Homo sapiens: one gene and its partners. The protein of the gene in region 6 interacts with the protein of the main gene of each other region in a pairwise test. Each region holds a gene or a part of one and is shown on either strand. Other genes may lie near its edges. The genes, in order: FMR1, HACL1, CLN3, TPPP, EEF1D, MAGEB6 and CCT8.

The links.
Region 1: the proteins of MAGEB6 (region 6) and FMR1 interact in binary tests that used the Homo sapiens proteins (3 or more experiments, as listed by UniProt).
Region 2: the proteins of MAGEB6 (region 6) and HACL1 interact in binary tests that used the Homo sapiens proteins (3 or more experiments, as listed by UniProt).
Region 3: the proteins of MAGEB6 (region 6) and CLN3 interact in binary tests that used the Homo sapiens proteins (3 or more experiments, as listed by UniProt).
Region 4: the proteins of MAGEB6 (region 6) and TPPP interact in binary tests that used the Homo sapiens proteins (3 or more experiments, as listed by UniProt).
Region 5: the proteins of MAGEB6 (region 6) and EEF1D interact in binary tests that used the Homo sapiens proteins (3 or more experiments, as listed by UniProt).
Region 7: the proteins of MAGEB6 (region 6) and CCT8 interact in binary tests that used the Homo sapiens proteins (3 or more experiments, as listed by UniProt).

What each region holds. Positions count from the first base shown.
Region 1 is NC_000023.11:147,935,919-147,939,418, forward strand, and holds part of FMR1 (fragile X messenger ribonucleoprotein 1), read left to right. Parts: intron 1-585; coding exon 586-695; intron 696-1,547; coding exon 1,548-1,682; intron 1,683-2,180; coding exon 2,181-2,243; intron 2,244-3,500.
Region 2 is NC_000003.12:15,591,570-15,595,069, reverse strand, and holds part of HACL1 (2-hydroxyacyl-CoA lyase 1), read left to right. Parts: intron 1-3,389; coding exon 3,390-3,470; intron 3,471-3,500. UniProt on the Homo sapiens protein: Peroxisomal 2-OH acyl-CoA lyase involved in the cleavage (C1 removal) reaction in the fatty acid alpha-oxydation in a thiamine pyrophosphate (TPP)-dependent manner.
Region 3 is NC_000016.10:28,482,075-28,485,574, reverse strand, and holds part of CLN3 (battenin), read left to right. Parts: intron 1-1,456; coding exon 1,457-1,569; intron 1,570-2,902; coding exon 2,903-2,949; intron 2,950-3,029; coding exon 3,030-3,098; intron 3,099-3,192; coding exon 3,193-3,248; intron 3,249-3,376; coding exon 3,377-3,470; intron 3,471-3,500.
Region 4 is NC_000005.10:662,353-665,852, reverse strand, and holds part of TPPP (tubulin polymerization-promoting protein), read left to right. Parts: intron 1-527; exon of another isoform or gene 528-556; coding exon 557-751; 3' UTR 752-3,500.
Region 5 is NC_000008.11:143,587,416-143,590,915, reverse strand, and holds part of EEF1D (elongation factor 1-delta), read left to right. Parts: exon of another isoform or gene 1-308; intron 309-834; coding exon 835-1,925; intron 1,926-3,500.
Region 6 is NC_000023.11:26,191,079-26,195,239, forward strand, and holds the start of MAGEB6 (melanoma-associated antigen B6), read left to right. Parts: upstream 1-1,361; 5' UTR 1,362-1,449; intron 1,450-2,707; 5' UTR 2,708-2,768; coding exon 2,769-3,992; 3' UTR 3,993-4,161.
Region 7 is NC_000021.9:29,063,649-29,067,148, reverse strand, and holds part of CCT8 (T-complex protein 1 subunit theta), read left to right. Parts: intron 1-77; coding exon 78-258; intron 259-371; coding exon 372-433; intron 434-2,043; coding exon 2,044-2,181; intron 2,182-3,500. UniProt on the Homo sapiens protein: Component of the chaperonin-containing T-complex (TRiC), a molecular chaperone complex that assists the folding of actin, tubulin and other proteins upon ATP hydrolysis.

The DNA of each region.
Region 1 (3,500 bases), about 120 Mb from region 6:
ACCTTGAAGAATTTGTATTCCTTTTGGATGTATGTATAGCTGCTTAAGCCACTTTCAGACTTAGATTATCTTTTATAAATGTGCCTTCCATACAGAATTCTGAAAATATTTACCATGGACAAAGAAGCAGATTTAAATCAGGTACAGACAAGAATTGAAAGTGTTGAATAAGTGAATATATTTCCCATTCTCTCTACTTTTTTCTTAATTCTTATAGAACTTTGCAGAAAGAATGATACATACCACAGTACCAGCAAGTTTAAAGCGTACCCTTTTGTGCAAAAATAAGAGGTTATCTTTGAACTGCCTTAAAAATCCAAAATTACCCTATCAGTTTGCAAGTATTAATCAACTCTGGTACCTGACCAAAGGAGTTTAAACAATGATGTCCTAATTAAACAGAAAACCAGATTAACCATCTTGTTGAAAAGAGTCTCTACTTTGGTTTTGAAATCTTACAATTCAATACATACACATACACATAAAAATATCTATCTATATGAATGTAATAGTTTACAGTAGGGCTGTGCTTACTGCTTTGAGGTATGTGTTTTTAAAACCAAACTTGATTTATTTATTTCTTAGGCAAAGTAATAGGAAAAAATGGAAAGCTGATTCAGGAGATTGTGGACAAGTCAGGAGTTGTGAGGGTGAGGATTGAGGCTGAAAATGAGAAAAATGTTCCACAAGAAGAGGTATGTTACAGTGCGAATATTTTGTGGCACATATAATAAAAGTAAAAGTTTTTTATGTGATATGTTGAGGACCTCTAATATGTGCATAAAGTGAATGCAAATATTCTGATTATCAAGCATGCCTGCTGTAATTAATGTTATAATTGTAGATAATGGCCCTTCTCTGTCCTCTAATGCAGTGAGTTTGGATTAGTCACTTTATTGAATTCTTTTTTCCTGATCTTTAAAATGGGTAGTTATAAATTTTTAAATATGAGACATACATCACTGGGTCGAGTGTTAATGGCAATTTAATAAAATAATATATATGTAAATGCTTCGTAAAGCACTTTGTAAATGTTAATGTTGCTGACAAAAGCAAAATTGGAACACAGGTTTTCTGGCTTTCATCTTTTCACTTTTTTAGTGTGGGGATTGTGTAGTATGTGTGTTTATTCTGTGTGCTTTAAATTTATTTCTGTGCTTAATATCTCTTCCCCATCCTCCTTACCTTTAAATTCTGTAACCCTTTTATCTTCATAAATATATGCTTTTTGTAGCAGCTTTTAAAGTATTTGCATGGGGTAGAGAGGTGAGGATGCACCTTTCTGTGCAATAGTACTCTTAAGATACTGTCTCATCAAAGAGCCGTAATTTTCACATATTGTCTAGCTTTCTTTTTGAAAGATTCTTTTAGCTAAAGTTAAATCTTTTTTTTCTGCGTACAATTTGTATTCGGTAATTTTATAAACCAAAACTGTTTATAATAACTTACATTTTTTAAAAATATGATGATTGATAACACTAATAGAGCTAAATAAAGTCTTAAATTGGTCCTTTTTTTCTCTTTTGTGTTTTCTGTTTTTTACCAAGGAAATTATGCCACCAAATTCCCTTCCTTCCAATAATTCAAGGGTTGGACCTAATGCCCCAGAAGAAAAAAAACATTTAGATATAAAGGAAAACAGCACCCATTTTTCTCAACCTAACAGTACAAAAGTCCAGAGGGTAAGAATTACTTGTCACTTTGAATTACAATACAAGTAATTTGTCTCAGATGTCACAATTGGTATTTTGGATGTTTTCTCTGGTTAGACTTGTAGGCTACTTATGTTCTATTTTTTTTCCAAATGTAATTGCCAGCTTATGAGATACTACAAATTAGTGTGATACATACTTTTCAATTTATTCACAGTAACAACTCTTATGCCATAAACACAAAATAATGGGGTTGCATTTAGTGGTCACATTTTTCTTTTGACAGTGGACTCTCTTTTTTCCATGCCTTCTCTCTTTAAATTTTGCAGGTATCGTAGCTCAAAATACACCTTCTGTTAGTTGCATTAGTTACTACTTGAACCATATTTTAGAAACTAATTTTCTCTGTTTGAACTAATCTGTTTAGAAATGGGTTTAAAAGTCCTGCAGTGAAAGTCCTGCGTTCAGGCTTCTGTGTATCGTTTGTTATAGTTAATGACATCCCTTGCATTCCTTATACTGCTTTAGGTGTTAGTGGCTTCATCAGTTGTAGCAGGGGAATCCCAGAAACCTGAACTCAAGGCTTGGCAGGTAGGAAAACATTCCTTGAGAAATACACTTTCAGTTTATATTTTAATGTTTATTCCCCTTGTTAACAAAGATTACAAATGATCCTCAGGATTAGGGACTGGAGGGAGGAGTGTTTGTGGGTATGTGGATCCATTGCCCTGGAGTTAAAGCTTAAACACCTTCATGCCGCTTGTAAGGCTTTTCCTAATTACTTGTCTAGTTATCATCTTTAAATTATCTTCTCCCTTGCACTCTAGAGAACCTTAAGCCATACTGAAGTACTTTGAGTTCTCTGAACATTCTCGTGCTTATTTTGCTTCTAGACATATGTACAGGTTTACTCTGCCTGGAATGCTTTTTCTCCTCCACATGTCACCTCATTTTGACCTTATTCCTTACAAAGCTTTCCTTGTGTACTTGCCGAAGATCCCCACCCCCTTGACTGGTTCAAGAGCCTTCCCCTTCTGTTTTGCAATGTGCTCACCCCTAGCATAGCACTTAAACATAGATGTTTATTTGTTGATCTCCTCAACCACATTGTAAGTTCTTTGAGGGCAGGGAGAGCTGGTGAGAACTGTTTATGGAAAAAAATGTTGTGGACTCATGGATTAAAAGCAAAGGTGCCATTTTACAAAGAGGACTATAACGGCAAGTGGATTGGATATGTCTCATTGCCGGGCAGCCCATTATTCCAGAACACAGAGTAACTTTTTTCTGGGGTCCGTACTAAAGGCCATCATTCCATTCTTGCCTTTCTTCATTTTAATTTACTATTCAGGTCTACTCGTGAAGTGCTTAAATTAGAGTGGCCCTTGGGGTACTCCAGCAGTTTAGACATGTTGCAAGAAAAGATATTCGTAAATAATTTGCTCCGAAGTCAATCTAACTAAATCTGTTACATAGGATTTTAAAGCTATTTTGGTGATATTTGACCCAGAGGGAAGGGTGTAGCATTCATTCCATCACATGGTATTTTGGGAAATAATACAGTTAAAGGCTTTTGTAACAAATAAAGCTTGTTGGAGAAAAACCCAACATGCAGAAATGAATTGCCAGTTATTAATTTGCACAATTGTTTCTAGGTTTCCCTATAACTTGTGACAAGAAGTAGTTGTTTTTTTTTTCCCTCTTAATATATATATATATGGGCTAGGAGTACAGACATTTAGCATATGCCTTTTAAAAATCTGTTCTTATGTTAAGTAGTGTCCATAGAGAGAAGTTCAAACTTTCCTTGTGATTCAGCCTTTTAAAATTTTCAGAGTACATTATTGAAAT
Region 2 (3,500 bases), on a different chromosome or scaffold from region 6:
GTGGAACCTCTGCCTCCTGGGTTCAAGCGATCCTCATGCCTCAGCTTCCCCAGTAGCTGGGATTACAGGCATGCACCACCACACCCAGCTAATTTTTGTATTTTAGTAGAGATGGGGTTTCACTATGTTGGCCAGGATGGTCTCTGTCTCTTGACCTCATGATCTGCTGGCCTTGGCCTCCCAAAGGGCTGGGATTACAGGCGTGAGCCACCATGCCCGGCCGAAAAGTTCATATTTAAAACATTTTTGCTGTTTGAATGAACTTCTGGAGCTGCACTGGCAAGTATAGTAGCCACGAGCCGTATGACTTGTTTACATTTAAATTAATTAAAATTAAATAACATTTAAATCATAGTTTATCAGTTTGTAGTAGCCACATTTCAAGTGCTCAGTAACCATGTCAGTAGTGGCTACCGTATCATACTGCAAATGCAGAACATTTCTATTACTATACAAAGTTCTGTTGGATAGTACTGTTCTAGAAGTTTAGTTTACTTGGTGGTAATTACTTATTTTCAAGTCTGTCTTAAACAGAAATTTTTAAGAAATTATTTTATAAGTGTAAAATGGTGAACTGAATTATATTGAGATACCTTTTTCCCGAGTGGTTTAAGCTTAGAAAGTCACACTGAAGGGTAAAACATTCAAGTTCAATATTTATTTATTTGGAGTCTCACTCTGTCGTCTCCATGCTGGAGTGCAGTGGCACCATCTCGGCTCACTGCAAACTCCACCTCCCAGGTTCCAGCGATTCTCCTGCCTCAGCCTCCCAAGTAGCTGGCACTACAGGTGTGCACCACCATACTCAGCTAGTTTTTATATTTTTTAGAGACAGGGTTTCATCATGTTGCCCAGGCTGGTCTTGAACTCCTAGACTCAAGTGATCCATCTGCCTCAGCCTCTCAAGATGCTGGGATTACAGACGTCAGCCACCGTGCTCAGCCTCAAATTCAGTTTTAAAAGATTTTGGGGACCAGGCGCGGTGGCTCATGCCTGTAATCCCAGCACTTTGGGAGGCCGAGGCGGGTGGATCACCTGAGGCCAGGAGTTGGAGACAAGCCTGGCCAAACATGGTGAAACCCCGTCTCTACTAAAAATACAAAAATTAGCCGGGTGTGGTGGCACATGCCTGTAATCCCAGCTACTTGGGAGGCTGAGGCAGGAGAATCACTTGAATCCGGGAGGCGGAGGTTGCAGTGAGCCGAGATCACACCATTGCACTGCAGCCTGGGGAACAAGAACGAGACTTCGTCTCAAAAAAAAAAAAAAAAAAGACAAAAAAAAAAACACAAAACATTTTGGGCAGAGCACTGCATTCAGAATTACTTTCCTATCAAAGATCAGTCGACGTTATATTTATTTGTTAAGAAATGAAAAAAAAACCTTTTTTCATACAAAAATGAACTCAGCAGTCAAAAATTTGCTTCTGTATACCATTAACTTGATTTAGTCCAGATGTAGTCCAGATCAAAATAAGTGGTTAGAGACATAAGGTGTGAAAATGATAGGTACCTTATTTCTCACAAGAAATCCGATATCTTTCTTTTTTTGGGCCAGGCATGCTGGCTTATGCCTGTAATCCCAGCACTTTGGGAGGCCAAGGCAGGCAGATTGCTTGAGCCCAGGAGTTCAAGACCAGCCTGGGCAACATGGTGAAACCCCATCTCTACCAAAAAAAAATACAAAAAATTAGCCGGGTGTGGTGGCATCTGCCTGTAGTCCCGGTTACTTGGGAGGCTGTGGTGGGAAGATCACCTGAGCTTAGGAGGTTGAGGCTGCAGTGAGCCCTGATCATGCCACTGCACTCCAGCCTGAGCAACAGAGTGAGATGCTATCTCAAAAAAAAAGTGTGTATATATATACACACACGCACATATATATGTGTGTATATATACACACATATATACGTATGTGTGTATGTGTGTATATATACATATATACGTATGTGTGTGTATATATACACACACATATATGTATATGTGTGTGTATATATACACTTTTTTTGAGATAGCATCTCACTCTTGCCCAGAGTATATATGTACATATGCGTACATGTGTATACACGCACACATGTGCGTACATGTGTATACACGCACACATGTGCGTACATGTGTATACACGCACACATGTGCGTACATGTGTATACACGCACACATGTGCGTACATGTGTATACACGCACACATGTGCGTACATGTGTATACACGCACACATGTGCGTACATGTGTATACACGCACACATGTGCGTACATGTGTATACACGCACACATGTGCGTACATGTGTATACACGCACACATGTGCGTACATGTGTATACACGCACACATGTGCGTACATGTGTATACACGCACACATGTGCGTACATGTGTATACACGCACACATGTGCGTACATGTGTATACACGCACACATGTGCGTACATGTGTATACACGCACACATGTGCGTACATGTGTATACACGCACACATGTGCGTACATGTGTATACACGCACACATGTGCGTACATGTGTATACACGCACACATGTGCGTACATGTGTATACATGTGTATATGTATACAAGTGTATATACAAGTGTATATGTATACAAGTGTATGTATACGTGTGTGTATGTATACGTGTGTGTATGTATACGTGTGTCTACATGCATACGTGTGTGTATACGTGTGTCTACATGTATACACGTGTGTGTATACGTGTGTCTGTATGTATACATATATATAGAGTATACTCTGGTGCCCAGAGTATATATACATATATGTATACATATATATACGTATGTATACATATACACGTATGTATACGTATATATGGATCCATATATACACGTATGTATACGTATATACGTATGTATACATATATACACGCATGTATACATATATACGTATGTATACATATATACATGCATGTATACGTATATACGTATGTATACATATATACACGTATGTATACGTATATAGTGTGTATATATACGTATATAGTGTGTGTATATATACGTATACGTATATACGTATATATACGTATATAGTGTGTGTATATATACGTATGTAGTGTGTGTATATATACGTATATAGTATATACTATAGGTATATAGTGTGTATATATATACACTATGTATATAGTGTGTGTATATATACACGTATATACGTATATATACACTATATACATATATAGTGTATACACTATATACGTATATGTGTGTATGTATATATATCGCGATATATATATATCGCCTTGTTTTTTAATTAAAAATATTCTAATAATTGTTTTATCAGTTATAGTAAAGACTTGTATGTCCTTCCTTTGAAGTCCAAGATTGCCATGTTTCACACTAAAGTGTTATGAATCAGTTGTTACATTTGACCTGATTTTAATAAATTCTGTTTTGCTTTTAGGCCAGGAGTCTGCCTTGTTGTTTCTGGCCCAGGTCTCATCCATGCCTTGGGCGGTATGGCAAATGCAAACATGAACTGCTGGTAATGACATTATTATTACTGAAAACATTT
Region 3 (3,500 bases), on a different chromosome or scaffold from region 6:
TTTGAGACGGAGTCTCATGGTGTCACTCAGGCTGGAGTGCAGTGACTGGTGTGATCTCAGCTCACTGCAGCCTCGGCCTCCCGGGCTCTAGTGATTCTCCTGCCTCAGCCTCCCGAGTAGCTGGGACTACAGGCCCATGCCACCATGCCTGGCTAATTTTTTATATTTTTAGTAGAGACGGGGTTTCACTGTATTGGCCAGGCTGGTCTCAAACTCCTGACCTCAAGTGATCCACCTGCCTTGGCCTCCCATAATGCTAGGAATACAGGCGTGAGCCACCGCGCCCGGCCTGATTAGTTCTGTGTATTTTCATGCATATTACAAAACACTTTGGCCGGGCATGGTGGCTCACATCTGTAATCCCAGCACTTTGGGAGGCCGAGGCGGGCGCACCACGAGGTCAGGAGTTTGAGACCAGCCTGGCCAATATGGTGAAACCCCGTCTCTACTAAAAATACAAAAATTAGCCAGGCTTGGTGGCGCTTGCCTGTAGTCCCAGCTACTTGGGAGGCTGAGGAGAAGAATCGCTTGAACCCAGGAGGCAGAGGTTGCAGTGAGCCGTGATTGTGCCACTGCACTCCAGGCTGGGCAACAGAGCGAGACTCCGTCTAAAAAAAAAAAAAACACACACTTTGAACTAGCCAGACACACCTGGCCCTTCACAAGATTAGTGCTTAGGACAAGTCTAAGTAGAAAAAGTGAGTCCATTTAAAGAAAAATATTAAGTAAAAATATATATATACAGGAGGAATATGGATATGGCAAATAACATGAAGCCAGAACCTAAGTGACTAAAATCGAGGAAGTTCTGGCCTAGCACAGAGTGAACGTATAATTAATGGGAGCTAGAGCGACCATTAGAATAATAATGGCCAGAAAACAGAACTGACTCGCTAGGTATGAGCCAGCAGTCCGAACAAGGGCCTGCTGAGCACAGTGGCTCACAGCTGTAATCCCAGTGCTTTAGGAGGCTGAGGCTGGAGGACCACTAGAGGCTAGAAATTTGAGACCAGCCTGGGCAACATAGCGAGACTCCATTTATACAAAAAATGGAAAATATGAGGCGGGCTTGGTGGCACGTGCCTGTAGTCCCCGCTACTTGGGAGGCTGAGGCGGGAGGATTGCTTGAGCCTGGGAGGTCGCGGCTGCAGTGAGCTATGATTGCACCACTGCATTCCAGCCTGGATGCTGGAGAAAGACCCTGTCTCTGAAAAAAATCAAAACAAAATGAAGGCCCATGAATAGGAATAAGGAGATAAATTCAGGTCCAAAGAAAGAAGCCTTTGTCCACAATTGGAGCTCTCCCGCACAGCGTAGGAGCCTTAGAGGCAGTGAGCTACCCATCTTTGAAAGTGTTCAAAGGTAGAGGTGTTCCCTGGGAAAAGTGGCCTAGATGGTCCCTGGGGACCTTCCCAGCCAGTAGGGTTTTCTGACCCTGCCTTCATCCTACTCCTAGCTATTTCTTGTTGCTCACATCTCCTGAGGCCCAGGACCCTGGAGGGGAAGAAGAAGCAGAGAGCGCAGCCCGGCAGCCCCTCATAAGAACCGAGGCCCCGGAGTCGAAGCCAGGTAGGAGACACAGACCCTCAGAGAGGTCACTTTCTTTCTCTCTGGGTTTGGCCTTTTCCTCTCTGCAATAGGCAAAGTTAAGAGGGGAAAGAGAGTGAGTGTACTGGTTATGGGAAAAGCCTTTGTCTATTTGAGAAATACTTGTTGAGGACGAGCACAGTGGCTCACGCCTGTAATATCCCAGCACTTTGGGAGGCTGAGGCAGGAGGACCACTTGAGCTCAGAAGTCTGAGTCCAGCCTGGGCAACAGAGCAAGACCTTGTCGCAAAAAAAAAAAAAAAAAAAAAAAAAAGAAAAGAAAGGAAGGAAGGGAGGGAGAGAAGAAGGGATATTAATTGAGTACTTACCATGTGCCAGGCATTCCAATCACAAGTGCTGAGGCCCTGCGGTGGGGATAAGCTGGGATGTTCTAGAACCAGAGAATGGCCAGTGAGACTGGGCAGGGTGGGCCAATGGCCATCTGTGGAGCTGTACAAGAGACATTGGCCGGGCGTGGTGGTTCATACCTGTAATCCCAGCACTTTGGGAGGCTGAGGCAGATGGATCATTTGAGATCAAGAGTTTGAGACCAGTCTGGCCAACATGGTAAAACCCCGTCTCTACTAAAAATAAAAAAATTAGCCAGGTGTGGTGGTGCATGCCTGTAGTCCCAGCTACTTGGGAAGCTGAGGCACGAGAATCACTTGAACCCAGGAGGCAGAGGCTGCAGTGAGCTGAGATTGCACCACTGCACTGCAGCCTGGGCAACTGAGTGAGACTCTGTCTCAAAAAATAAAAAAAATTAAAAATCAAAGAGACGTGAAGAGGTCTCACCTGGTTAGCTTTTATTTTCATCATGATAAAGTATGTATATTACTTGAAGTTTACCATTTTATTATTTTTTATCTTACTTTATTTTTTTGAGGTGGAGTTTCGCTCTTGTTGCCCAGGCTGGAGTGCAATGGCGCAATCTCAGCTCACTACAACCTCTGCCTCCTGGGTTCAAGTGATTCTCCTGCCTCAGCCACCCGAGTAGCTGGGACTACAGACACCTGCCACCACACATGGCTAATTTTTGTATTTTTAGTAGAGATGGGGTTTCTCCATGTTGGCCAGGGTGGTCTTGAACTCCTGACCTCAGGTGATCCGCCCACCTCAGTCTCCCAAGGTGCTGGGATTACAAGCATGAGCCACTGCGCCCAGCCATTTTAACCATTTTTAAGTGTCCAATCCAGTGGCATGGAAGTGAGTTCCCACTGTTGCGTGGTCTGGTTAATTCTGTCATACCGGTGCCTCTTTGCCGAGTCTTCAGTGTGAAAACTTCATCTGCCCTTCTCTCTCTGTTCCCCTGCAGGCTCCAGCTCCAGCCTCTCCCTTCGGGAAAGGTGGACAGTGTTCAAGGTTCGGATGATGGCTGGGGTATGTCCCTGTGGGGCTTGCTCACCTCCAGGCCCCCCGCTTATATCTTCTGCCTTTTCCAGGGTCTGCTGTGGTACATTGTTCCCTTGGTCGTAGTTTACTTTGCCGAGTATTTCATTAACCAGGGACTTGTAAGTGAGGGGTGCTAGGAGGGGTGTGGAGGTGGCGATTGGGGCTGGGACCCACACAGCCCCGTCCATCTCCCCTGTCTGGTATTTGTTGCAGTTTGAACTCCTCTTTTTCTGGAACACTTCCCTGAGTCACGCTCAGCAATACCGCTGGTAAGAGGAGCGAGGGCAGTGGGCTGGGAGGGCGCCGTGGTGATGCAGCTGCCCTGCCCAGTAGGCACCGGGGGGAGCGGGATGGTCCCTGGAGGAGCCTCCTCTCCTCCCCCCAACCCTAACCTCAGGTACCAGATGCTGTACCAGGCTGGCGTCTTTGCCTCCCGCTCTTCTCTCCGCTGCTGTCGCATCCGTTTCACCTGGGCCCTGGCCCTGCTGCAGGTACCAAACCCCTGCCCCTCACTTCACTCC
Region 4 (3,500 bases), on a different chromosome or scaffold from region 6:
GGGGGGTCCTGGGAGGCGTGGTCAGGAGGGCGTGGCCTGGTGTGGGGTCTGAGGAGGTGTGGTCAGAAGGGGCATGAATGGGGCATAGCCTGGAGGGTGAGGCCTGGGGAGGCGTGGTCAGGAAGGGCATGGACTGGGAGTTGGCCTGGGAGGGGGTGGGTGGGTCCTGGGAGGCATGGCCAGGTCGGCGTGGCCTGGGGGGGTCCTGGGGAGGCTTGGTCTGAAGGGGCATGGATTGGGGGGGCATAGCCTGGAGGGTGGGGCCTGGCTGTTCTGACAGCCCCTTCCCTCTGAGGGTGCAGGTGGTGGGGTCCCCAACTACATAAACACCAGGTGGACCTGGGCAATTGTTAGGGTTGTGGCACCCCGCAGGCCCAAGGCTGCCCCAGGGTCAGGAGAGGTAAAAATAAGAATTAAAAGGGGCATAAATCCCAGGGTTTATGCCCCTTGCCCAGTGCCCCACCGCTGGGAGACCTGCCCAGGGCACAGCCATTTCACTTGCTGGCCTCACCTGGCTCGCAACTCACCTGCCCCCTTCCTCCTGCTCCTCTTGCAGAAAGCCATCTCGTCGCCCACAGTGTCGAGGCTCACGGACACCACCAAGTTCACGGGCTCCCACAAGGAGCGCTTCGACCCCTCTGGCAAGGGCAAGGGCAAGGCTGGCCGCGTGGATCTGGTGGACGAGTCAGGCTATGTGTCCGGCTACAAGCACGCAGGCACCTACGACCAGAAGGTGCAAGGGGGCAAGTAGCCCCCGCTCCATGCCTCGCGGCACTGCCGGTGTCCCCAGAGCAGGGACTCTGTCACCTCGCACTTCATTACATTCCTGTACTAACTGGGGCAGAACTCAGACGGGTGCCCCAGAGGGGGCTGGGGGGCGGCCAGGCCCAGGCCTCCCTCCTGCCCCTCCTCCTACCGGATGCCCCCAGCACTCCCCTCTCAAACCAGGTTTGGGCCCCAGTTCGCTGACCCTCCTAATACACCTGCCTCGTCCTCAGCCATTTCCAAAGTGTCTCGCGGATCACACCACACTGGGCACGTGGTTTGCAGGTCAAAGGGGCGTTTTAAAGCAGCTGGCTGTCATGGCAACAGGAGGCTGTGCTGACCTCCTGAGCGGCAGACACCTTCCAGGAGCCCTGAGGGTGGCAGGAGCTAACCCCAACCAGCAGGCAACTAACACGGAATTGGCCCCACACCGGACGTGGGAGGTGTCTGTGGGGCCCGAGGCCTGTCCTGTGTGCAGCGGACACCACGGGGCCTTCCTGCTTTCCTGGGCAGAGGGCAGAGTGAGGCCACCTGGCGGGGGTGCTGGGCGCCTGGCACATGTGTGGGGAAGCCGGTCACATGGACACACCTGTGCACACATGCCTACAGGCCAGCTCTGTGCCAAGGGCAACCTAGGTAAAACGAAAGCCGTCAGGGGCAGTGGGCGGCTTCCCGGCTGACCACAGTGGCTTGGACTGTGAGGGTAGAGTAGGCTCGCTTTGCTTTCCTGAGAAGATGCGGTGGCTGCCTATGTTCTCAGAGCGGGTCTGGGAAGATTCAGAATGTCCGGTCCCTGTGGTGTTGCCAGGCAAGAGACACGAAGTGCCGAGACACTCCTCGCCTCACCGCGTGACAGAGCCTCTGCCCGGCCCTCCCGTTCGCCCGTCCTCACTAGCTGCACCCTGTTTGCTCGCAGACCTCCCATTGCCACAGCCCAAGCACCTTCTTCAACTCTCCCAAAATGGCTCAGCCTAACCTCTCCTGGCCAATCCCCCCCGCCGGAGAGCAGGACACTAGGGAGGACCCCCAGTCCTGCAGTGTCTGTGGGGGTTTCTCTGCCAGCAGGGGGCTGAGCAGAGCCCATCCAGGACACTCCACACTGCCAGGACACACCCAGGCGGCCCGCCCTTGCCTGTCTGCACCTGGGGAGAAGCCGGCGCTCCTGCTCCCTCCTGGGGAGGCTGACGGGTGTGGCCACCCGCTGTCACAATGGCACACTGCCACTGTCCCTTGGCACGCACACAGCCACAGCCACACGTGTGACCTGCTGGGCCGTGGTTCTGGAGTCTACCTGCGGATGAGCCTGCGGCAGTCCTGGGGAAACTTTTCCAGAGCCTGTTAGCCCGTGGCTACGGTCAGGCTCTGGCCAGGGCAGAGGGCTGCCCAGGGCCAGGCTCACAGTACAGGAGGGTGGCGAGGCCCCTCCCTCACTGGCACGCATGAGCACCACCCGCCTCCCCGACTCCCAAGAGTGCACCTGCTGCGGCCACAGCTCCGTGGAAGGACTCCCCCTACCTGAGCAGAGCAGAAGCCCCAGGGCGGAGCTCCCAGCCAGCATGGTCCGCTGAGGGCTGGGGGGCGGTCTCCGAGGCCCCTCAACAGAGAAGCCTCCACCTGAGGATGGGGAGGACCTGGCAGGCAGCTTCCACGGCAGGGCTGGGAAGTTCAGTGCCTGGAAATAAAGAGCAAGGAAAAATGGACCTCAGGCTTCGTGGCTCCTTTAGGATGTCACCTCACCGGCCTGGGGAAGGCGGGGGGTGCCCAAGCCCAGCCCTGTGCCCCCGCTGAACCTGGCTGGACCGCGTGTGAAAGGCAGAACTAACGTGCGGAAACATTTGAAAACAACTCTGAATGTGCGGTTCGGAATCACCCGATCACAGACGAGCGGTCACCGGAATCGCCCGGTCACAGACGAGCAGTCATCGGACTCACCCGATCACAGACGAGCGGTCACCGGAATCGCCCGATCACAGACGAGCGGCCACCGGAATCGCCCAATCACAGACAAGCAGTCATCGGAATCACCCGATCACAGACGAGCAGTCATCGGACTCACCCGATCACAGACGAGCGGTCACCAGACTCGCCCGATCACAGACGAGCAGTCATCGGAATCACCCGATCACAGACGAGCAGTCATCGGACTCACCCGATCACAGACGAGCGGTCACCAGAATCGCCCGATCACAGACGAGCAGTCATCGGAATCACCCGATCACAGACGAGTGGCCACCGGAATCACCCGATAACAGCCCATCACAACTCCAAAGCCCTTGTGTTGAAAAGGCCGAGGACGAGTGGTCACCAAACAGGGTGGCTCCCCAGGTCCCGAAGCCTGAGACCCGGAAGGCCCTGGCACCCTTACACCCTCGGACTCCTGCCCTCCTCGGCCTCCCTGGCCCCAGCGCGGCTCCACCCTGGGCTGCGTCTCCTGGTCACAGGCTGCGTTTCTCCTTTCTGTCCGTGGGCAGCCCAGTCCCCACAGTCACGGCCAAGCCACGCAGAACGAACATGACTCCAGAGGACCTCGCCCTGGAGCTGAGCCTGGCGCCGGGTCAGGACGGAGGGAAGGGCGGGTTGGGGTCCGCGGGTCCTCACACCGCACGGCAGGCACAGAGGCTCGCCAGGCCCTGATCCGGTCTGTGGGGACGAGGGACACTGAGGAGAGGTGCTGGGCACCAGGACGCTGCCTCCTGGTCCCTGGTTGGCCTCAGACAAGCACGGCCTCGAGAAAA
Region 5 (3,500 bases), on a different chromosome or scaffold from region 6:
CTCTTTTTTTTTCTTTTCCCCTGCTCTGTTGTCCAGGCTGGAGTGCAGTGGCGCCATCTCGGTTCACTGCAAGCTCCGCCTCCCGGCTTCACGCCATTCTCCTGCCTCAGCCTCCCTAGGAGCTGGGACTACAGGCGCCTGCCACCACGCCCGGCTAATTTTTATTTTTATTTTTAGTAGAGACAGGGTTTCAACGTGTTAGCCAGGATGGTCTCAGTCTCCAGACCCTGTGATCCGCCCGCCTCGGCCTCCCAAAGTGTTGGGATTACAGGTGTGAGCCACCGTGCCTGGCCGAGGCTCCTTCTTTTGTAAGAACTTTGAGGGTGCTCTGGGTGTGGCAGTGGTGTGGCCAGGACAGCCACAGAGACCGTTCTGTAGAATGGGAACACCAGCCACCATGGTGGGGTGGCCAGGCCTGGCCTGTGGAAAAATGCAGGGAAAGCTAGTTAGCCAGTTAAAGCTTATTTCAGATAAATGACGAAAAATTTTTAGTGTAAGTATGTCTCAGATACTTCATGGGCCATACATTCACTAACAAAATTATATATTGTTCATGTATTGGGAGGCACTTGGCCTCCCAGAGTACTGAGATTACAGGCATGAGCCACTGCGCCCGGCCTGTTTTCTCTTCACAACAAAACGTCCCCACATGGGCTTGACTTCGAAGTCCTCGAATGTCATCTCATGGAAGCCCCACTGGGGAGCATCCTCAGCCCCTGCCCAGGGAGGGCAGCCACGGGGAGGGCGGGCACGGGGAGGGTGGGCACGGGGCTGCGGCCACCCGCTGTGTTGCAACTCTGCCCTCTGCTTGCTTTTTATCGCTGTGTCCGGAAGATGAGGAGCGGGAAGGCCTCCTGCACCCTGGAGACCGTGTGGGAAGACAAGCACAAGTATGAGGAGGCCGAGCGGCGCTTCTACGAACACGAGGCCACACAGGCGGCCGCCTCCGCCCAGCAGCTGCCAGCCGAGGGGCCAGCCATGAATGGGCCCGGCCAGGACGACCCTGAGGACGCTGATGAGGCGGAAGCCCCTGACGGCGGCAGCAGGCGTGATCCCAGGAAGAGCCAGGACAGCAGGAAGCCCCTGCAGAAAAAGAGGAAGCGCTCCCCCAAGAGCGGGCTCGGCCCCGCGGACCTGGCCCTCCTGGGCCTCTCGGCCGAACGCGTGTGGCTGGACAAGTCACTTTTCGACCAGGCAGAGAGCTCCTACCGCCAGAAGCTGGCAGATGTGGCTGCCCAGGCAGCCTGGCCTCCTGCCTTGGCCCCTTGGGGTCTCTGCACCCATGGAAACCAGGTGGCCTGCCACCACGTGACCTGGGGGATCTGGGTCAACAAGTCCTCCTTCGACCAGGCTGAGCGGGCCTTCGTGGAGTGGTCTCAGGCCCTGTTGCTGGCCCCCGACGGCAGCCGCAGGCAGGGGACTCCCAACACAGGCCAGCAGGTGGCCGTCCCCGACCTGGCCCACCAGCCCAGCCCACCGGTCAATGGCCAGCCCCCGCTGGGCAGCCTGCAGGCACTGGTTCGGGAGGTGTGGCTGGAGAAGCCCCGGTATGATGCAGCCGAGAGGGGCTTCTACGAGGCCCTGTTTGACGGCCATCCCCCAGGGAAGGTGCGCCTGCAAGAGCGAGCCGGCCTGGCCGAGGGTGCCCGGCGGGGCCGCAGAGACCGGCGGGGCCGCAACATCTTAGGGAACAAGCGGGCCGGGCTGCGACGGGCCGATGGGGAGGCCCCCTCTGCCTTGCCCTACTGTTACTTCCTGCAGAAGGATGCAGAGGCCCCCTGGCTCAGCAAGCCTGCCTACGACAGCGCCGAGTGCCGCCACCACGCTGCCGAGGCCCTGCGGGTGGCCTGGTGCCTCGAAGCTGCCTCCCTGTCTCACCGACCCGGTCCTCGGTCTGGCCTGTCCGTGTCCAGCCTGAGACCCAAGTAGGAGAAACGTGCTGGGTGGGCACCCAGCCTGGGCTGTGGGCACAGGGACAGCCATCCCAGGCTGGGGCTCCTCCAGCTTCCTCCCCTGCCCACCTGGGGTGGGGGCTCCCCGAGACCCGTGGGCCCAGCAGAGTTGAATGCAGGAGCAGGCTGAGTAAAGGTGGTGCTGCGCTTGTGGGTTCCAGGGACACTGCTTGAGGTTACAAAGTTCCAGGCTGCCTGGATGAGGGCAGGGAAGGGCTCAGCACAGGGCAGAATCTCTGCCTTGCCCAGGGTCCCTCTTTGGCTGGGAAGCTCCCCAAGTCCCCTGTGGCTGTCACATGCCAGGGCTGAGAAGATAAGGCTACTTATAGGGGCGGGAAGCATTGAAGCTGGTTTCTGGCCCTAGCGCTCCCCTGCGATGAGATGTGGGAGCCAGTGTGTCCCTGCCTGTCCATCCTGTGCACCCCCAGCTTTCCTTGTCACCTGAAACCACCTCTGAGGGAAGGTGGTGGCGTCTCAGATGCATGGGCATGTGGCTGGTCAGGTGGCCTCCATCCCAGGGTGCCCCGTCTGTGTGACCTCCCTCTGGGTGCTGTGGGCTTGCTCCAGGGTGCAGGTGCAACCCCAGCAGCGGTCTCTGGGGCCAGGCAGGTGGGTGGACGATTGGACTTGGAGGGGAATACAGAGGGCATGGAAGTGGCGAGGCTGGCCTGTTGGCGAGGGTGTCCTGGTGGTGGGGCGGGCTGAGTCAGGGAAGGACTCTGAAGGTCCCAAGCAGCTGCTGAGGCCCCCAAGGAAGTGGTTCCAACCTTGGACCCCTAGGGGTCTGGATTTGCTGGTTAACAAGATAACCTGAGGGCAGGACCCCATAGGGGAATGCTACCTCCTGCCCTTCCACCTGCCCTGGTGTTCACGGTGGCCTGGTCCCTCCTTGCCGAGAGAGTGTCCTGGGTCAGGGACGCAGAGGACGCTCACAGACTCCAGCCCTTTGTTACCGAGAGGACACTTGGCAAGGTCCAGCGATGGTCCGGAGTCCACACACAGACTGGCGGCAGGGCAGGAGGGGGACAGTTCTGTTGTGCTTGGTTGGACAGTAAGAGGGTCTTGGCCAGTCCAGGGTGGGGGGCGGCAAACTCCATAAAGAACCAGAGGGTCTGGGCCCCGGCCACAGAGTCATCTGCCCAGCTCCTCTGCTGCTGGCCAGTGGGAGTGGCACGAGGTGGGGCTTTGTGCCAGTAAAACCACAGGCTGGATTTGCCTGCGGGCCATGGTCCCTGTCTAGGGCAGCAATTCTCAACCTTCTTGCTCTCAGGACCCCAAAGAGCTTTCATTGTATCTATTGATTTTTACCACATTAGCAATTAAAACTGAGAAATGGGCCGGGCACGGTGGCTCACGCCTGTAATCCCAGCACTTTGGGAGGCCGAGGCGGGTGGATCACCTGAGATCAGGAGTTCAAGACCAGCCTGGCCAACATGGTGAAACCTTGTCTACTAAAAATACAAAAAATTAGCCAGGCACAGTGGTGTGCACTGGTAGTCCCAGTTACTCGGGAGGCTGAGGCAGGAAAATCGCTTGAACCCAGGAGGC
Region 6 (4,161 bases):
TTGCCTTAGCCATAGCTGTGAAGATGACAACCAAACCCGGGTGGTTCTTTCCCATGACCAAACTCAACCATAGAAAAGTTAAAGGAAGAATTTTTTTTTAAAAAAAAAGCAGTATTAACAACAGCAAAACAACAAAAATGCGAACCTTGAGAGATGGTCAGTTTGTATTGAACAAGAATGGGTGTGTGGGCAGGTAGGGGCATGAGCTGAAGTAGAGACAGGTCTGTGGCCTACAACAGACGCAGATAACGGAATTGGCTAGAGGAAAAGCTTTAAAACTTTGGTCTTTGCTTCTTTCACTGTGCCATTGGACAATGCATTTTTTTTTCTGCTTCACTAAAGGAAATTCAGTCAGAAACTTGGACCCTATGTGCCAGTTCCATGGGGTAATATTGCCACAGCAAAAACATCTGGGTAGGCTGAAGAAGTATGAATCCAGACACTGTGCTAATAACTACCTGAAACTTCTTTAGTGGAAGTGGACTGGCCTTTAAATTCGTATTATTTTAATATAATATAAAGAATGGACTAAATTAGGATAGCAAATATTGCAGTGAGTCACACAAGATAATGGTAGAAATTCATTCATGAAGGTGTTGAATACAGACACTGATGTCAGCCAAGAGAGAAGTCCCAGACATAGCTATCAGGCTAAGAAGTCTTCTCACTTTCTCCTTATGAATTTTACAGGATCTAGTCAGAGGAAGGGGATGAATTTACATCAGAAAATGGAGAAAACTGAGACCCTGCCAGCAGTCAATGTGAGGACCCTGAGTGAGGACTGAGGGGCTCCACATATCAGAAGAGACAAGAGTGCCCCCCAAATCTCCCTTCATTCCCCGATCTTGCATCACAACTTAATAGCAGCAGCCAGGTTTAGGAGGCCCCAGGCAGTAGTGGCCAGGTGAGGTGTAACTGAATTGCACATGAGGAGTCTCAGGAAGTTGAAGTCTAGTCTGAGAGGGTGTCCTCAAGTCAGTAGAGGGGACATGGCAAGAATGAAGCGACGACACTGAGTGAGGGCTGAGGGCAAAGTCCATTCCAAAAAGGGGGTCTCACAGAGCTCCACCCCTACTGTCAGTCTTGGAAGGTCCCGGCATGGCTCCCGAGCTCAGGCTGCACCTTACTTCCAACTCTGGACTCTCAGGGAATGAGAGCCTCTATCTCCGGTTGACTGATTCAGCTCAACAGATAGAGAAGTCCAAGGGTCCGCGAAGAGCCCCTGAAAGAACTTTACGTGAGTTCCCTGGAATCTGCTGCACCCACAGAACACAAGGGGGAGTAACAGAGCCCTGCAGCTACTGTTACGCAGGGAGCGCCAGGTGGGCGTGGCCGGAAGTGGTTCCTCTTGACTTCCACCTAATAAAGGGGTCTGAGCCGGTCGCCTGAGCCTGAAAAGTGCTGTCACGTCAGCGGAAGGAGGCGTCCCAGATCTTCTCAGCTGTCTTGGTGGGTATCCTGACCTAGAACGGGGGGCATTCCCCGACAACTTCAACCCCCTTCCCCCGAAGAAAGGCGGCTCCACAGAGCCCTGCCCCAACCTGCCCCGACCTGGTCCCTGAGGAGTCCCCAAACATGGCTGTTAGGCCCAAAGTCCATTCATTTTTTTCCGTCGTGTTGAAGAACATGAAGGCCTCGGTCCAAGGCTTGTGGACCCAGGTCAGTAGAGGGAGAAATCTCAGGCCCTACATAGTTAAGAGGACCCTCCTTAGAATTGAGGGAGGGGATTCCATGTCCCGTAACGGGTTGCACCGAACTCTGCCCTTGACGTTAGCCTGGGGGTCCGGGCAGGTCTCTAGAGACTGAGGTGCATTCTCACTTTGTCCCTGTGAGAGTCAGAGAGGTAGGCCCCTGGTTGTAAGGAGATGGCAGCAGGTCAGTGAGGGTGATTTCCAGGTTGTGGGAAGAGTCAGGGTGAGGAGTCTAATTACTGTGAGGAGCATTCTCACTATAACTGGAAGAGCACTCAAATGCCTCCGCTGTTGTCAGCCCTAGGTGGTCTGGGTGTCCCCGGAATGAAGTGTTGGGCAGAAGTGCTTCCTTATTTCCTCCGGGTTAAAATTCCTACTGTCAATTTCAGAGTGGCACAAGGAAATGGGCCTCTGGGTCTTGTCAACAATTTTTTTTTTATTATACTTTAAGTTTTAGGGTACATGTGCACAATGTGCAGGTTTGTTACATATGTATACATGTGCCATGCTGGTGTGCTGCACCCATTAACTCGTCATTTAGCACTAGGTATATCTCCTAATGCTATCCCTCCCCCCTCCCCCCACCCCACAACAGTCCTCGGAGTGTGATGTTCCCCTTCCTGTGTCCATGTGTTCTCACTGTTAACTTCCCACCTATGAGTGAGAACATGCGGTGTTTGGTTTTTTGTCCTTGCGATAGTTTGCTGAGAATGATGGTTTCCAGTTTTAATGATGATCCTGAATGTAAACAGAGAGGATCCAACCCCTGAACAGAGGGGCCCCCACTGCCAGCCCCTGCTGTCACCTCAGTAAGCCCCAAAATGGGCTGTCATGCTATAGTCTAATACTCTAACTTCCTCCTGAGTTTGAAGGAGACAAACTGACCAGGAGAAAAGGAGTCCTGTGGGTTCCTAGAGCAGCTGTTCTGCGGAAACCTGCAGAAGGGGCCCTAGTTAAAGCCAAGATGGTCGCTCTCTGCTGAAGATATTGACGTGACGTCACTCTCTCCCATCCAGGTGCCAGCCTTCCTAGTCTTCCTACCCACACTCCTACCTGCTGTCACAGGCCACAGCCATCATGCCTCGGGGTCACAAGAGTAAGCTCCGTACCTGTGAGAAACGCCAAGAGACCAATGGTCAGCCACAGGGTCTCACGGGTCCCCAGGCCACTGCAGAGAAGCAGGAAGAGTCCCACTCTTCCTCATCCTCTTCTCGCGCTTGTCTGGGTGATTGTCGTAGGTCTTCTGATGCCTCCATTCCTCAGGAGTCTCAGGGAGTGTCACCCACTGGGTCTCCTGATGCAGTTGTTTCATATTCAAAATCCGATGTGGCTGCCAACGGCCAAGATGAGAAAAGTCCAAGCACCTCCCGTGATGCCTCCGTTCCTCAGGAGTCTCAGGGAGCTTCACCCACTGGCTCTCCTGATGCAGGTGTTTCAGGCTCAAAATATGATGTGGCTGCCAACGGCCAAGATGAGAAAAGTCCAAGCACTTCCCATGATGTCTCCGTTCCTCAGGAGTCTCAGGGAGCTTCACCCACTGGCTCGCCTGATGCAGGTGTTTCAGGCTCAAAATATGATGTGGCTGCCGAGGGTGAAGATGAGGAAAGTGTAAGCGCCTCACAGAAAGCCATCATTTTTAAGCGCTTAAGCAAAGATGCTGTAAAGAAGAAGGCGTGCACGTTGGCGCAATTCCTGCAGAAGAAGTTTGAGAAGAAAGAGTCCATTTTGAAGGCAGACATGCTGAAGTGTGTCCGCAGAGAGTACAAGCCCTACTTCCCTCAGATCCTCAACAGAACCTCCCAACATTTGGTGGTGGCCTTTGGCGTTGAATTGAAAGAAATGGATTCCAGCGGCGAGTCCTACACCCTTGTCAGCAAGCTAGGCCTCCCCAGTGAAGGAATTCTGAGTGGTGATAATGCGCTGCCGAAGTCGGGTCTCCTGATGTCGCTCCTGGTTGTGATCTTCATGAACGGCAACTGTGCCACTGAAGAGGAGGTCTGGGAGTTCCTGGGTCTGTTGGGGATATATGATGGGATCCTGCATTCAATCTATGGGGATGCTCGGAAGATCATTACTGAAGATTTGGTGCAAGATAAGTACGTGGTTTACCGGCAGGTGTGCAACAGTGATCCTCCATGCTATGAGTTCCTGTGGGGTCCACGAGCCTATGCTGAAACCACCAAGATGAGAGTCCTGCGTGTTTTGGCCGACAGCAGTAACACCAGTCCCGGTTTATACCCACATCTGTATGAAGACGCTTTGATAGATGAGGTAGAGAGAGCATTGAGACTGAGAGCTTAAGGCAGGGCTGGCACTATTTCCTTGGCCAGGGTACCTTATGGGGCCATATCCTACAGATCCTCCCATTTCTAGGGAGGTCTGAAGTAGAATTTTCACTTTATGTTAGAAGAGAGTAGTGAGCTTTCTAAGTAGTGCAGTATAGTAGAGGCTGGAGGGAACAAGATATGTA
Region 7 (3,500 bases), on a different chromosome or scaffold from region 6:
AACATCCATATGCATTGGGTTACCAAAATAAGCTACTTTAAGTCATGTCAGAATAGGAAATGTTGTTTATGTTTTAGGTCATAGAAGGTTATGAAATAGCCTGCAGAAAAGCTCATGAGATTCTTCCTAATTTGGTATGTTGTTCTGCAAAAAACCTTCGAGATATTGATGAAGTCTCATCTCTACTTCGTACCTCCATAATGAGTAAACAATATGGTAATGAAGTATTTCTGGCCAAGCTTATTGCTCAGGCATGCGGTAAGTAAATATCAGTAAATGAAAAGATCCAAAATAAAAATACCTTTAACATGACTAGATACTTTCTCTGTTGTCCCAAAATAATCTTTTGATATGTCTCATTTTCTTAACAGTATCTATTTTTCCTGATTCCGGCCATTTCAATGTTGATAACATCAGAGTTTGTAAAATTCTGGTAAGTAGAAAATGCATTAATGCTACATATCTAGGTCAGTTTTTTTGTGTGCTTTTTTTGTTTTTTTGTGCAAAAAAAAAAAAATGTGTTCATCTAAACCTAAATGTTACTTCATGATTTGAACACTTAGGACTTTTTTTGAGGCATTATTTTTATTTATGTACTTATTTATTTTTGAGACGGAGTCTCGCTCTTGTTGCCCAGGTTGGAGTGCAATGACATGACCTCGGCTCACCGCAACCTCCGCCTCCCGGTTCAAGTGATTCTCCAGTCCCAGCCTCCCGAGTAGCTGGGATTACAGGCATGCGCCACCACACCCGGCTAATTTTGTATTTTTAGTAGAGATGGGGTTTCTCCGTGTTGGTCAGGCTGGTCTCGAACTCCCGACCTCAGGTGATCCACCTGCCTTGGCCTCCCAAAGTGCTGGGATTAACAGGCGTGAACCACCGTGCCTGGCCTTTGAGGCATTATTTTGTAACATTTTGATGTTGCTAAGTTGTAATAATACTACTACCTATTTAAGTTTAAAAGGATATTGACATATTATCTCCTTATAAAGTCATTTTCTGTGATGTCTTGTGGGTTTAAGAATAATGTATAAACAAAATACTAAATTTTTTTTTTTTTTTTTTTTGAGATGGAGTCTGGCTCTGTTGCCCAGGTTGGAGTGCAGTGCCTCGACCTCGGCTCACTGCAACCTCCACCTCCCAGGTTCAAGTGGTTTTCCTGCCTCAACCTCCCAAGTAGCTGGATTACAGGTGCATGCCACCATGTCCAGCTAATTTTTGTATTTTTTTAGTAGAGGCAGGGTTTCACCATGTTGGCCAGGCTGGTCTCGAACTCCTGACCTCATGATCTGCCCACCTTGGCCTCCCAAAGTGCTGAGATTACAGGTGTGAGCCACCGCGCCCAGCGCAAAATACTAATTTTTTTGTGTTCTTCATAATACTCTGAATTATAATAAGCTTATAAGACAGTTTTGAGTGGGGTGGAAATCGTCCTATTCCTCTTCAATAATAGAATTCACACTTTAATGTTAGTATTGAAATATTAAAGTATATTTTTGATAAAATGTGCTTGATAGAGTAAAACCTATCAGTGGAATGGTTTTGGTTTTGCACATTGGCATTCTGATTGTTAATGTGAATTTAGCATAACATAAGTACATGTGCTTTCCCTGAAGATACTCACGTGTTCTATGTTTGCTGTCTCCCTCCACGTACTGCCAGCTTTTCCCATTAAATGCAACCTTGTGAGAACAGAATCTTTGCTTTGTTCTGTGTTGTATTTGCAGTACTGACAGCTGTGGCTGGTATATTGGCACCAAGTACTAGGTAACTGAATGGCTAAGACCAGTTCTCTGCCTTTGGTTCTTCCCAGTACATGGAAGGACCTCCCCTCCCTAAAAGTAGCTCATTCCCTCAGTGATTTCTGCCTCGAGCAGAAGGGTGTGCTGTATGTCCACCACTCCACCCCTTATCCCAGGAGTCACTGCCTTGGTTTATGACTTTATTTTAGAAAGGGATATTTTTGGTATATGGAGAATCAACAGTTTGACCGTAATGTTATTTTCAGGAGATTGCTGATGAGTTTGGTATTCAATTCCTTAGGGCTCTGGTATCAGTTCCTCTTCAGTATTGCATGGCATGGTTTTTAAGAAGGAAACCGAAGGTGATGTAACATCTGTCAAAGATGCAAAAATAGCAGTGTACTCTTGTCCTTTTGATGGCATGATAACAGAAACTAAGGTATGTAGACTTCAAACCTTAAAAGTAATAATTGGGGTTGCACTTTCAGATTGTTTGAGTTAGCTCTTAAACCAGTAAGTACTTCTTAAAAAACTGAACATTGCAGGATCTTACCTATTTTTTTATGCCAGATTTATAGTCTTCAAATATCTAATTCAACTACTGAACATTAAACTGGAAATATAAAGATGGTGGCCGTATTATTTATAATCTGACACACAGCCCTTCTAGTAGAGCTTATACATTCAGCAAGTGAAAGAATATGAGAATGTGAGTATTTTGTGTGCTCTTCACGAAAATAAAGTTGACATTCTGTAGCATCCTAAAACAAGATAAGCTAATGTAATTTGAAAATGGTAAGTATGTTTCTAAAAATACATGTTAGAAAGTTTGAAGTTTGTGTTTATAGTCAATAGTGGCTGACTTCATCTCTAGAATTCTTGAAATCCAAGTTGTTGATAGTTTTAAAATTTTGTAGCATGAGGGGGGTCTGGTCATTTGGTCCATATTTTATTTTATTGTATTTTATTCTTTTTTTTTTTTTTTTTTTTTTTTTTTAGAGTCTTGCTTTGTCACCCAGGCTTGAGTCCAGTGGTACAATCTTGGCTCCCTGCAACCTCCGCCTCCTGGGTTCAAGTGATCTCTGGCTAATTTTTGTATTTTTAATAGAGACAAAGTTTCACCATGTTGGCCAGACTGGTCTCCAACTCCTGACTGCAAGTGATCCACCCGCCTTGGCCTCCCAGAGTGCTAGGATTACAGGCATGAGCCACCGCGCCCGGCCTAGTCCACATTTTAGAAAAAGTTTGAGAACCACAATGTTGTATTGGGAACACTAGTTAGCCTTTGTCAAAAGACAAACACCAGGACACCTACCTACCTGACATATTTAAAATAAAAGCACTTCTCGGCCGGGCACGGTATCTCACGCCTGTAATCCCAGCATAGGCCAAGGCAGGCAAATCACGAGGTCAGGAGTTCAAGACCAGCCTGGCCAACATGGTGAAACCCCGTCTCTACTAAAAATGCAAAAATTAGCTGGGCGTGGTGGCGCTTGCCTGTAATCCCAGCTACTTGGGAGGCTGAGGCAGGAGAATCGCTTGAACCAGGGAGTCAGAGGTTGCGGTGAGCCGAGATCCTGCCTGCACTCCAGCATGGTGACAGAGTGAGACTCTGTCTCAAAATAAATAAATAGATAAAAGTACTTTTCCACCTAAGTACTTATCAAAAGCAGATGCATCTGTTTTGACAGGGGGTTCTAGAAGCAAGCTGAGTTTCTATTTCACACATACAGTATTCTGCTGCTTCATAATATATGC